Linked DNA regions of Homo sapiens. The protein of the gene in region 1 purifies or fractionates together with the protein of each later gene. This does not show direct contact. Each region holds a gene or a part of one and is shown in the gene's direction. Other genes may lie near its edges.

Region 1 (3,500 bases):
GTATGTGTGTGTGTACGCACACATTTTGTTGTTGTTGTTGTTGTTTTTTGAGACAGAGCCTTGCTGTGTTGCCCAGGCTGGAGTGCAGTGGCACAATCTCGGCTCACTGCAAGCTCCGCCTCCTGGGTTCACGCCAGTCTCCTGCCTCAGCCTCCTGAGTAGCTGGGACTACAGACGCCCACCACCAAGCCTGGCTAATTTTTTTATATTTTTAGTAGGGATGGGGTTTCACCGTGTTAGCCAGGATGGTCTCAATTTCCTGACCTCGTGATCTGTCCGCCTCGGCTTCCCGAAGTGCTGGGATTACAGGTGTGAGCCACCACACCCAGCTACATGTTTTCAACTCTTTTTTTGTTTGGTTTGAGACAGAGTGTCGCTCTGTCACCCAGGCTGGAGTGCAGTAGTGCGATCTCGGCTCACTGCAACCTCCGTCTCCCAGGTTCAAGTGATTCTCCCACCTCAGCCTCCCGAGTAGCTGGGATTACAGGCGCGTGCCACCACGCCCAGCTAATTTTTGTGTTTTTAGTAGAGACAAGGTTTTGCCATGTTGGCCAGGCTGGTCTCAAACTCCTGATCTCAAGTGATCTGCCCACCGTGGCCTCCCAAAGTGCTGGGATTACAAGCATGAGCTGCTGTGCCCAATCAACTCTTTAAAAATGTAAAAACCATTCTTAGCTCAAGCGCTGTCCTAAAACAGGTTGCAAGCTGGATTTGGCCTGTAGGCCAGAGTTTGCTGACCCCTGCTCTAAGTGATCACCTGGGAATGTCCCCTGCTCCAAGTGATCACCCGGGGAATGTGGGAACCGACAGGCTTTTCTGGAGTTGGGAGTTTCTTTAAGATCTTATCTATTCCATCTATTAGACTCATTCATTGTGTTTATTCCTTTCTGTTGATGCATTGGTAAGAAACAGTATGGGAGAATAGATTGAAATATACAATGCTGTTTTCTCAGCATGATGTGCTATTTGCTCTTTATAAATGACAGGTGATTTAAAACAATTAATTGGTTATTTGCTGATTTAATTGGGATCTAATTCTACGTGGCTGGAAAAAATTTCCCCTGAATTTCTAAGTTTTTTGGATTTTTATGTCATCATTAATCTTGGATTCTTTCCAAAAGGAGCTCTAGGCTATTGTTTGTTTGTAGGAATTACCCCTCCTGAAGCCCGAGAGTTGTAATGGCTTACATGACTGAACGTTGGTCCCCTGTTAGTGTGGTTCTCTAAGAAACCTTAGGACTGTTGCCTTGGAAATAGTGAATTTTCCCCTCTCAATGACCAAGACACAGAATGTCTGTGTAGGGCATTTTCTGCAAAGAACAACAACAAAAACAATTGTTTTAAAAAGCTTTTCAGAAATATAAAAGTAGGGTGAATAGTATAATGAATTTTCATGAACCCATCACCTGGTTCTATAGTGATCAAAACATGAAAAGTCTTGTTTCATCCCAACTTCTACCCACTTATCTTACACTGGATACTTCTACCTGTGTAAGATTACTTTGAAACAAATTCTATGTAACATCCCTTTTCATCCAAAAATACTTCAGTGTATATATTTAAAATATAAAGACTTATAACCACAATAATATTCTCACACTTAAAAAGATTAAAAATAATCAAATATCTGCACATTTCTCATAATTTTTTAAACAGTTGAATTGTTAAAATCAATATCCATATATAGTCTACATAGTGCCTTTGTTTGCTAAATCTCCGAATCTTCTTTCAATCTATAGGCTCCTCTCTTTGCATTTTATTTGTTGAATAAACTGGATTGTTTGTACTGTAGATTTTCCACAATCTGGATTTTGCTGATTGCGTTCCCACACAGTTGTCTAACATGTTCCTCTGTTGCTTGTATTTCCTATAAATGAGTAGTAAGATCTGGAGGCTTGATTCAATTCTGGTTAGATTTTTTTTTTTTTTTGGAGGTGGGAAGAATACTTTATAGGTGATACTGTATAGTTCCTAATGAATCATGTGTGAAGGCAGAAAATGTCTAGTTGTTTATTTTTATGATATAAAGATAGGTCTTAAAAGTACCTTTAAAATTTTTTGTTTTTTTTAATTGACAAATAATAGTTGTACATATTCTTGGGGTACATAGTGATGTTTCAATATGTATAATGTGTAATGATCTGATCAGGGTAATTAGCATATCCATAATCTCAAACATTTATCATTTCTTTGTGTTTGGAATCTTTTTTTTTTTAATTTAAAAGTAAACTTTAGCACACCAACATGGCACATGTATACATATGTAACAAACCTGCACATTGTGCACATGTACCCTAAAACTTAAAGTATAATAATAAGAAAAATAAATGTGAACATAAACTAAAAAGAAAAAAAAAAGTAAACTTTAATGTCGAAAATGCAAACTTGGGAATCTTAAAAGTATCTTAAAAATGCTTTCTAGTTCTCAGTGAGTTCAAATGTTGTCAGACTGATCTGTTCATTGTAAAGTTTGTGTGAAAGATTTTTACTAGGGTTTATATTAAATCTGCTATTTTTATTGATGAAGCAGTTCAGACATTAGAACTTAAGTTATTGAGGTAGTGGTCATAGAAAGGTGAGACATTGCTCATCTGACTGACTTTCTCTCTAATAGCTGGAAGAAGAACTGAGACAGCAGAAAGAAGCAGCTTGTTTCAAGGCTCGTCCAAACACCGTCATCTCTCAGGAGCCCTTTGTTCCCAAGAAAGAGAAGAAATCAGTTGCTGGTAGTATTATATGTACTCTGATGGGACTCGGGCAGAATTGTCAGACTTCCCAGTGGGATGCTGGAATTCAGTGTGTCAGTACAATGCTGTGTCAACTAGAAGCATTTGACTTTAGCAGATGGTAGCTTTTCTTCCCCTAGACCCAGTTTTTTGCCTTTATTGAACCCAGCAGCTATGTTGAGTTGCAGGATGTGTTAGGGCCAGATTCATTTAACATGAACCTTGGCAGAAGCAGCTGGCATTTCAACAACAATGATAGGTTTTCCCCATCCACAGAGAAACAAGTAAATGAGGGAGGGAGAGCCAGTATGGCTTTCTGGAATTCACCCTGAAGCAAACTTTAGATATAAAACATTTGATTCCTTAAACACTGGGCAGTGTGCTAGAATACTGGGATTCCACCGGGTGTGGTGGCTCATGCCTGTAGTCCCAGCACTTTGGGAGGCCCGGACAGGAGGATCACTTGAGCCCAGGGATTTGAGACCAGCATGGGCAACATAGCAAGACCCCATCTCTTTTTCAAAAAAATCTTTCCAAAAAGGGAAAAAAAGAATATTGGGATCTTTCTTCTATGTCTGCCTCAAAATCAATCACTATATAGTTTTGTGCAAGCTACTTTATGTCTTTGCCTTTTTCCCAATTACACCAGACGATTTCCAGGGGCCCTTTGAACTCTTAAAATTCTAAAACTTTTTGTATTTAGTTGGCTCTACCTTTCTCCCAATGGGGCTTGTTTAGAGCACAGTCTTCCTGTTAGTGTGCATGTCTGTGCCA
Region 2 (3,500 bases), on another chromosome or scaffold:
TTCCAGGGAATGCATTGGTTTGTGTTCCTTGCTTAGTCGTTCACTCAATAAATCTCTGTGCCTTGTTTGTGCCAGGCACTGGGGGTGCTGAGGAGGCAGGGTTAGGTCCTTGGGCGGATGCTGATGACACATGGGGAGTGTGAGTGTGTGTGTGTATGTGTGTGTGCGCACACACACGTGGGGATCAGGCCGTGAAGAATAAGTGTGGGAGCCCAGGACTCTAGCTGGGCTCTATTCAGGAGGCAGACATTCAAGAGGCTTTGTGAGGAGGTGACACTGGCGGCCCCAGGATGTGCGGCAGTGGGGACTGAAGAGGAGGAGGAGGAGGGAGATGCAGGGTGGCAGCTGCAGCGCAAGCCATGGCCCCACACACAGTTGAGGAAGGGCCCTTGGGCCAGGAGGAAGTGAGCCCGTGGCAGTGTTGAAAGCAGCTGGCGCAAGGCTCTGGGCCCTCCCAGCAAGGCTCATCTCAGGTGGTGGTGCCCACGCTCAAAGGGCAGAATGCGGGTTCTGCCTCCACGGGTCCCCCTGTGCTGCTGGTTCACACGCTGACCACCCCTGGAATATCAGGGTTCAGAAGGACAGAGGGGTTCCACCGCGTCGTTTTCCACACCTCCTCCATGAAGCCACATTCTTATTGGACCCTGGGGTTCCAGGGTCCAGATACCATTGCTAATGGCTAGGAGAAGGGAAAACTGCGAATGCACAACCCCCACCAGGGGGTCCTGTTTCTGTCCGCCTTGCTGTTCCTGGGCAGAGGGGCAGGACTAGTTTATCTTGATGACCCTGTGTTAGGACCAACTAAGGGATCTGTGCTGGGGTCCCCAAGATGACCCAGAGCAACTTGCTGGGGGACTCACGGCCAAGATGTTAACTGCGGTGAAGGGACACAGGCAAACTCAGCCCTGGGAATGAGTACATGAGGGCGCCTGGAGGAAGCAGGCGCATCCTCTTCCTGTGGACTCGCAGGGGCCACGCTGCCCTCCTCCAGTTGTGACAGCACGAGTGGCATGCTGTCTGCGAGGAGACTTGCTCAGCGCCCAGGGTTTTCACTAGGCTGCTCACCTAGGCAGCCTCTGCCCAGCATGGACCAAAATTCCAGATTTGGGGGGCAAAGCAGGCATTCAGCACAAACTGCATTGGTTGCAGAAACAGTTTAGATGCAGTGAGCCCCTCTTACTGGACAGTGAATGCTGGGAGCCCTCCCAAAATGCAGCTTCCCAGACACCAGCCGAGGCCTAGCCTTGCAAGCAGGCCTTCCAAGGAGAGCAGCCAGGCCTCCTGTGTCACTTTTCTGCACGCTATCCTAACTGATGAGACATTCTAGTCCAGTTGAGATTTTGACATTTCTCATTCACTCACTGGGCGTCTGCCCTGTATCAGGTCTCGTGGGGGCCCTGGGGATATAGCAGGGAAGAAACAGTCCTGCCCTCTTGGAGTTGATGGGGAGGTTGAGCCAGGATGAACATGGGAATGACTGAATAATCCGACAAGGCATAGGCAGTGTTGGCAGAGAACTCCTGGTGACCCAGTAGTGAATACAGGAGACTGGACAGACACTATGAATTGACATCTAATGAGGGACCTCAACAGTTGAGTGACGTTGAGCCACATGGGAATAACAGGAAAAATAAAAACCTGGGGGAAGCTGGTCCTGGCCCTGTAGGGGAGAGCTTGGCTGCTCATTGCACTGAAACGAGGCTGGGTGGTTGGGGTGGAGGAGTCGGGATCGTGGGAGGAAATGAAGCTGCCAGGAAGCTACCCAGTCGTCCCCAGATACCTAGACACCCAGACACCCACCCCTGCTCTTAGGCCCTAAGGGTCATGGTCAGGAGTTGAGATCAGAGGCCCTTAAAATCCAAACATGACAGGGGAATATGATTCAGCCATAAAAAACAGAGTGACATACTGATAGATGTAGCAGTGTTGTAGATAGATGCACTTTGCTAAGTGAAAGCGCCCATCGCACACAGCGCATGAGTCTGTTCGCAGGAGCTGTCCAGCAGGGGCAGGTCCGCAGAGACGGAAAGCAGAGTGGCTGCCGGGGGCTGGGGGTAGAGGGTGGGGAGCGATTGCTTAGTGTGTACAGGGTCTCTTTTGGGGGTGATGAAAATGTGCTGGAACTATATAGAGGTGGCGGTTACATAACATTGTTAATGTGCCAAATGCCACTGCATCGTTCACTTTGTTTTGTTTTTGTTTTTTGAGATGGAGTCTGGCTCTGTCGCTCAGGCTGGAGTGCAGTAGTGTGATCTCGGCTCACTGGAACCTCCGCCTCCCAGGTTCAAGCGATTCTTCTGCCTCAGCCTCCTGAGTAGCTGGGATTACAGGTGCCCACCACCATGCCCGGCTATTTTTTTTGTATTTTTAGTAGAGATGGGGTTTCACCATGTTGGCCAGGCTGGCCTCAAACTCCTGACCTCAGGTGATCTGCCCACCTCAGCCTGCCAAAGTGCTGGGATTACAAGCATGAGCCACCACGTCTGGCATTATTTATTTATTTTTGAGACAGAGTCTCCTCTGTTGTCCATGCTGGGGTGCAGTGGTGCGATCTTGGCTCACTGCAGCTTCTGCCTCCCATGTTCAAGTGATTCTCCTGCTTCAGCCTCCCGAGTAGCTGAGACTACAGGCGTGCACTACCATGCCTGGCTAATTTTTGTATTTTTAGTAGAGATGGGGTTTTGCCATGTTGGCCAGACTGGTCTTGAACTCCTGGCCTCAAGTGATCCACCCACCTCGGCCTCCCAAAGTGCTGGGATTACAGATGTGAGTCCCTGCGCCCAGCTGAATCGTTCACTTTAAATGGTTAAACAGTATGCTTTGTTATGTGTATTTTGCCATAGAGCAGGAATGGCCCCCCCTCTACCAGCTGGTCCCCGAGAGTGGAGCAGAGAGGTGGCTGATGATGATTTTTGTTACAGAGCCATTGTGGTCTTTATGCCTTTAGATCTCAAGGTCCTTGTATTATGGACTTTTCCTCATAAACTTCAGCTCTCAGACCTGGAGAGGTCCGTTTCCATCCTGACCCCGTCCACACCTTCTTTTGTTCTTTCACACCCGCAGATGTTGGCCGATGATGCAGAAGCAGGTGCCGAGGATGAGAAGGAGGTGGAGGAACTGAAGAAGCAGGGCATCAACCCCCTGCCCAAACCGCCCCCTGGTGTGGGCCTCCTGCCCACCCCTCCTCGGCCCCCTGGCCCGCAGGCTCCAACCTCTCCCAACGGCAGGCCCATGCAGGGTGGCCCCCCGCCCCCGCCCCCTCCCCCTCCCCCACCGCCCGGGCCCCCTCAGATGCCCATGCCGGTGCATGAGCCACTGTCCCCGCAGCAGCTGCAGCAGCAGGACATGTACAACAAGAAGATCCCCTCCTTGTTTGAGATCGTGGTGCGGCCCACGGGACAGCTGGCTGAGAAGCTGGGTGTGAGGTGAGTGCCCTGGACCCCCGTGACAGGCAGTGGGCGCTGTCCTGGGCCCAGCCAGGCTCCTCTTGTTAGGGCAAG
Region 3 (3,500 bases), on another chromosome or scaffold:
CAGCAGGTCTTGGTCAAGACATTGAGGGAAAACTTCTAGGTTTTCACATAGTTGGAATCCTTCAACTTCTGTATATCAAAGTAAATAGTAAAACAATGAAATGGGGATTTAACAAAGCCCATGTCACTATTTCTATGATTGAAGTATCTTGAGTCTTTTTTGCTTGCAGGATGAGCCATTAATAGTAGTCTCTCACCTGTGAATGTATTTTACTTGCAATATTTGTTTTTAAATGTATTGAAGTTTGTATTAGTTCCTTTTAGTGAAACAGACATCTATAATAAGATAGAGGAGTTATATTTTCTTGTTTTGTACATAAAATACAGTTGTAACAGTTCCAATCAAGGGCGCTTAATGACCATTTATGTCACCGTTTATAATGTGGATTACAAAGCCACAGAGTGGCTCCCCTTCCTTCACTCTTAAGTGGGCCAGAGCAAGAGGGTAATCCTTGGATGCTGTTGACAGCATTCTCCTTGTTTTACAGTGGCTTAAAGAGAAGGCATCACTTGGAAACGTTCCCTATTATCTGTGTAATAGGGCTTAGCATAGCTCTCCTATGTATTAACACTATTTCACCATGCGCTTGCAGTCCTCAGAGGCATTTGAGCATTGCTTGTATTTTAACTTGTGAGTCAACCTAAAGCAAAGTTAGTATTTATTGGAGATTCATTAGAAGCGTGACAGTATTATGTATAGTTTTACAGCATACTTAAGATTATGTGCAATCTCTTTTCTGAAACCCCTGGAGTTTGGTCGGTTTCAAAGGTCCTACAGTGTGTAGTACATTAAAATTCCCAGCAGTTTCTGAATAGCACTGTATATTATATGCATTAAATATTTTTATAGCATAACATGAATATTCTTACTAAAATCAGATAAATAAAGACTGTAAATAGCCTTATGTCTGTTTGGATCAGATTTTGCCACCAAGTGACTTGTGTTTTCAGAGCCTTTGGATGTAGAGATTGTGAATACAGGATTGTGGGCTGTACAAAACAGTTGTCTTTATTGAAATAATTGACGTGGTAACATCGTTCAAACCAAATCTGCCATAAAAGATAAAGATGAATAGACAAATTATTCTCTTTTATAAAGCTGCTTATTAAATCTTCTCTTTGAGGAGACTTTTGTTTTGAAAAGGCTTTGTTTAACCTGTTTGTTTATTTATAACTTTAGCTTCCTGGAGAAGAGCCCATTGGAAGAGTGGAACCAGTGGGTAATGCACCTTTGTTGGCATTAGTTCACAAGATGAACAACTGCCTCAGCCAGATGGAACAATTTCCAGTCAAAGTACATGATTTCCCTAGTGGAAATGGGACAGGAGGCAGGTAAGGACCATTGCCTGGCTATACCCTTGCCACTGGAATTTGGTACTTAATTTCACTGAAGTAAGATGGCAAGAGGTCTGGTAAAGTCTTGATTGGCCCAGAAAACATTCAGCTGTAATGATGAAAGAAATTAAGCACTCTAAAGAATGAATCAAATGCTTTCTTATCTTTAAAATTATACCATATGCCTTAAACAGGATGCTTTATAAATATATAATCCAGTGATTGTATTTGTAACTTGTAATAGGCTTAGTTTTCCTTAAATTGATACACTTCAGCATACAAAACTTCCTTAAGAACTTTATGTTTAACTTCAGTAGGGATAAAAAATTTTTTGTGGCTGTGAGTAATGTTTACATTTTGAGCGATATGATTTATATGTAATATTAGTGGCTATAACTTTGTATTTTGATGGGGTCAAATGTTTGAAGTTTTACTAGTTTAATAAATATATATATTTTTAATGTAGTTTTAAGGACTCTTGAGGTGCTACAGGAAAGAATTGTTCTATGTTGTGGAATGTTACAAGTTTCATGGAATATTTTGACCGGAGGCCTAGAAAATAGGAAATTTGTTTGGTTTTTATTTATTTATTTATTTATTTATTTATTTTGGGACAGAGTCTTACTTTGTTGCCCAAGCCAAATTACACTAGTGTGAACATGGCTCACTGCAGCCTTGACCTCCTGGCTGAAGAGATCTTTCTGCCTCAGCCTGCCACGTAGCTGGGGCCACAGGCATGTGCCACCATGTTCCATTAATTTTTTTATTTTTTGTAGAGACGGGGTCTCACTTTGTTGCCCAGGCTGGTCTCAAACTCTTGGGCCCAAGTGATCCTCCTGCCTTGGCCTCCCAAAGTGCTGGGATTTCTGAGCCACCACACTCAGCCTAGTTTGGTTTTTAAATCCACATTTTGACGTTTTAAAAACATTTAAAAAACTTTGTTTGAATTAAAAACCATATGCATTTTTGAGTGATAAAGCAATCACATCATGGACTAGGGTTTCTTTTCTGCTTTGAAATTTAATGTAGTGTGTGGTATTCAGTTTTGATCGTTATGATTTCCTGGAGGAGTTCATGAAATAAGGGGGCATTTTGACCTGTGCTTGAGAAAATCATGAAGCTTTTTGTGTCCAAATTTATATAAAATATGTTTGCATATGTATATATTCATAAAATGGAATATTCTCCACATCCCTATTTGTGTGCTTTATGTGCAGGAGGGTCCAATCTTTTGGCTTCCCTGGGCTATATTGGAAGATGAATTGTCTTGGGCCACATAAAATACACCAACACTAATGTTAGTTGATGAGCTTAAAAAAAAAAAACACTCATTGTATTTTAAGAAAGTTTACGAATTTATGTTGGCCTATATACAAAGCCATCTGGGCTGCATGTGGCCTGTGGGCCGCAGGTTGGACAAGCTTGCTTTGTGGAATCATACAGATAATCACAGTTTAAGTTTGTATCTGACTCCTGCCAGAGCTTTTCTGAAATGAGCAATTAAACATCATGACCAGGTTTCAACTGCAGTAGCTATTAAACCGCTTCGTTCAAAACTATTATAGCAAGGTAAATTTTAAAGGTTAGTTTTTAATGTAATATTGTAGCTGAAATCTTTGAAATAAAGAGTTTTTTTTTTCTTTTTAAAAAATATAATTCAATAGGAATGGGCAAAATATTGCAGAAGTGAGTGTGCTTAAATAGTTCAGGAATTTTTGTTCCAGAAAAATAATTAAATATTCATGGGTGAAGTATTTCTGCTCCCATGGATTTATGATGGGACAGAGATCAAATATTGACTTAAGGTTTTCATATGCATGCATACACATCCGTCTTTTATTTCTTACGTATAAAAATTTTTTCTAAATAACTTGAATTATTGGCTTTACCATTCACAGAACTGGTAAGTAAATGCTTAGTACTAGTGTGTCTTATGAAAATGCAGTTTGTATTAACTTGCCTTTATTTGAATTAATGTATATTAAATGTGAAAATAATAGACTAACTTTTTTTTCACAAATTATCTTGAGCTTTTCTCTCAACAGAGGATCACAGGCTTTAAAATTTTTCAACACACATCAATTAAAATGCCAGTTACAAAGGCATCCAGACTGTGCAAATGTGAAGCAGTGGAAGGGTGGACCTGTCAAGATTGACCCTCTGGCT
Region 4 (2,965 bases), on another chromosome or scaffold:
TGAAGAACAAAGAAAGATTCATGAGGAAAGGATGAAACTAGAACAAGAACGACAACGTCAACAAAAAGAAGAACAAAAAATTATCCTGGGCAAGGGGAAGTCCAGGCCAAAACTGTCCTTCTCATTAAAAACCCAGGATTAAATTGCAAACTCTGAACTTTTTACAAAGAAAAATGGAAAAACTTTGTATGGTAGCTTCATGTTGAAGTGGTTTTTTGTTTTTGTTTTTGTTTTTTTAATTTGTAAAATCTGGAAAGTTAGCTTGTTCTAATAGGGGCTATGCTCTGCAATTCCCTTTTTTTTTTTTTTTTTCCTTCCACTAAGTCAAATCCTTATCAGATCATTGTTGTATTCTAAGGAGTGACGTATTTTTCACCTGTTTGGATTCTATATTAGTGGTCTGAGGAAGAGCAGATCACATTGTAAAACTATGGATGGTCTGATAAGGCTTTTACTGACCCCACTGACTTCAGAGTTATACTCTGTTTGCTACATCATAATGCTGGTTTTGCTGACTTTTTGTTTTTTTATATATTTATAAAAAAAGAAAAAGTTGGTGATTGCATTGGGAAATTCCCAGGGTATTACTGGACCTATGTGGTGTATTGTTAAACCAGTGTCCTTGTGATACTGTTGCTCTTGATGTTCCTGATACAGGTAAGGAAACAGTTGGTCAACTCTGATACAAAGTATATATACAGTTCAGTATTGTCTCTGTTCATTTTGTTTTTATTTCATTGACAAAATCAAACCAGCATTCCCCATTGTGTAAATAAATGATTTTGCTGAATAAAGTAAAGTCTTAAATTCATATGTTGAAGCAATTTTTTTTAATGTTATGTTAAGTCTTAAAGAGGGTGGTTCACTTTTTGATGGTCAACCATTTAGAAGTCTTAGAACTATATTTCCTCTTGTTTATACTTTTAACATAGGGTTTATATGTACATTAAATATACTTGTGAATTAGTATTTAATGGCTATTTTTACAAATATCAACTTTATGCTGATAGAGCAAATGGCATCAGTGTTACCTTTAAGAAAGACTAACAACATCCAGAAGATTTAAATTCTCAAACCTGTGCCTCTGTTTTAGGATATAAGTATTATCACAAAGTATACTTAATAAAGGCTAGAAAAATGCTTTTAAATTATGGAATCTGAGATCGTTTTCAGAGTGGGCCATCAGAAAGAACTTAGCTTTATACTGTCAAAAAAAGGCTAAGATGGTCGAGTCATTTTCATTGTGTAGTGTACTTGCACGTTTATTTTTAGGACAAACACATTTGAACTTTATGAATTTTTTTTTTTTTTTTGCATGTGAAATCTTATGAATGGCTTTCATTTTATACACTAGAATCTGCCTCATTTACTCTTAACATATGTTTAAGTATACTGGTATTAAAACATTCAAGAAAAGGATATTGATCTAAAATGCTACCTGAGATGCATAAACATGTCATCAAGTAGAGAAAATATTTTTATTTTTGCCCAATATTTTTTAGACAGTTTGATTATTCTTAAAAATTGAAAACATAAGCTAAAGAGATGACTAAATGGTAGATTATTTTGTGTGTGCATGCTAGGAAAAATGCTGTTGCTTTAGTTTTGAGCTCTTCAATGAGTCTAATTGTGGTAAGGAACAATATAAAATCAGTTTAAAGATCTTTAAAGGTAGAATTTTAAATAGGCATGAAATATAGTGAGAACTTTTAGTAAACATACTACTTACTCTAAAATCAAACATTTTATTTTCCTAAAGAATATAGGTTGCCAAAAAATATTTTATCTCTAAATATAGGTTAGCTGTAATTATTTCATGAATTTTTTTTTTTTTCAATGTAACTTTTTTTGGTGAAGATTCATGGTTCCTAAGTTCTGTATTCAAGTTTTTGGAAATGTTTATTTAAAAACTGTTCTATACAAGTGTTCAAAACATTGTATCTAAAGAGAGTAGCCTGGACTTAAAATATTTGAAATCAGCTTATGCGTGCCTTTTAATTTTTTTTTTAAGTTTCTTACTGCCACATATGGTGTGAAGTGACAGTAAGTTGCTTAATGACATCCTGCAGTATCTGCTTGCTTTTGGAGACTCCAGTGAGATGTTGAAATTGTTCCTGTGCTTGGTAACTACTTTCCTCTGCCAGGCTATGGGAAAGAGGATGTAATTGTGAATAATATACACCATCCAGTCTTTAATGTGCTGCAACAATGTAGTAATTTGTTTTTTTCATTTGTTCCCACTGCCTTTGTGTACATAGAAAACTTAAAAATTTCCCCCAGTCTATTAGAAGTTAAGATGTTCCCTAATTTATTAAATATGCCTTTATTCACAATTTGTTTTTTTAGGTTATTCTTAATGCATTATAGAATTAAGTATGACTTTGTTTATTTTTATTACAGTATGTAGTTATTGACATATTGTGGTTTGCAGAATTATCAATTGTATAAACTAAACCTTTAAATTAGCTTGGTGTGAGGACTCTTTAATGCTTTAAATTGGGGAAGGGGTTTGTAGTATGAGATTTTACCTACTTCAGTTTCCCTTATGAAGATGCAGCAAATCAGACTATTTCTACCCTAAGTAATCTCCGTATTCATTTACTGTGCTAGTATGTGTCCATAGCTTTTTTTTTTTTTTTTTTGTATCACCACCTGTCCTGGATTTAGCAGTATCTTAAGAATTTTCAGTGGTTTGTATTTTTTCAATTTTCTAAGTATAGTAAGCGTAGAATCCTGACTTGTTGAACTCTATGTATCATTTCTAATGCCTCATTTTATGAGGAGCCTGTCACTTCACTGACATTTCTCCAAAGCTATTTCTATCCATTAGAGCGTCTCTTTTCAGTTGTCTAAATTTTCTGCATCTTTACACGCAAAACCATTCATCTGTTTTGTATTAATGGCCATGAGAAATACTGAAGACAGGCTATCCTAATTTTTGAGGCTCTCCTCCCCCTCCAGGAGA

The links.
Region 2: the proteins of TPX2 (region 1) and ZC3H4 purify together in Homo sapiens (affinity purification with mass spectrometry; one large-scale study listed by BioGRID and IntAct). This does not show direct contact.
Region 3: the proteins of TPX2 (region 1) and TRIP12 purify together in Homo sapiens (affinity purification with mass spectrometry; one large-scale study listed by BioGRID and IntAct). This does not show direct contact.
Region 4: the proteins of TPX2 (region 1) and ARGLU1 purify together in Homo sapiens (affinity purification with mass spectrometry; one large-scale study listed by BioGRID and IntAct). This does not show direct contact.

What each region holds. Positions count from the first base shown.
Region 1 is NC_000020.11:31,794,790-31,798,289, forward strand, and holds part of TPX2 (targeting protein for Xklp2), read left to right. Parts: intron 1-2,614; coding exon 2,615-2,726; intron 2,727-3,500. UniProt on the Homo sapiens protein: Spindle assembly factor required for normal assembly of mitotic spindles. Required for normal assembly of microtubules during apoptosis. Required for chromatin and/or kinetochore dependent microtubule nucleation.
Region 2 is NC_000019.10:47,072,277-47,075,776, reverse strand, and holds part of ZC3H4 (zinc finger CCCH domain-containing protein 4), read left to right. Parts: intron 1-3,063; coding exon 3,064-3,425; intron 3,426-3,500. UniProt on the Homo sapiens protein: RNA-binding protein that suppresses transcription of long non-coding RNAs (lncRNAs). LncRNAs are defined as transcripts more than 200 nucleotides that are not translated into protein.
Region 3 is NC_000002.12:229,793,010-229,796,509, reverse strand, and holds part of TRIP12 (E3 ubiquitin-protein ligase TRIP12), read left to right. Parts: intron 1-1,179; coding exon 1,180-1,331; intron 1,332-3,364; coding exon 3,365-3,500. UniProt on the Homo sapiens protein: E3 ubiquitin-protein ligase involved in ubiquitin fusion degradation (UFD) pathway and regulation of DNA repair.
Region 4 is NC_000013.11:106,541,173-106,544,137, reverse strand, and holds the end of ARGLU1 (arginine and glutamate-rich protein 1), read left to right. Parts: coding exon 1-142; 3' UTR 143-2,465; downstream 2,466-2,965. UniProt on the Homo sapiens protein: Dual function regulator of gene expression; regulator of transcription and modulator of alternative splicing. General coactivator of nuclear receptor-induced gene expression, including genes activated by the glucocorticoid receptor NR3C1.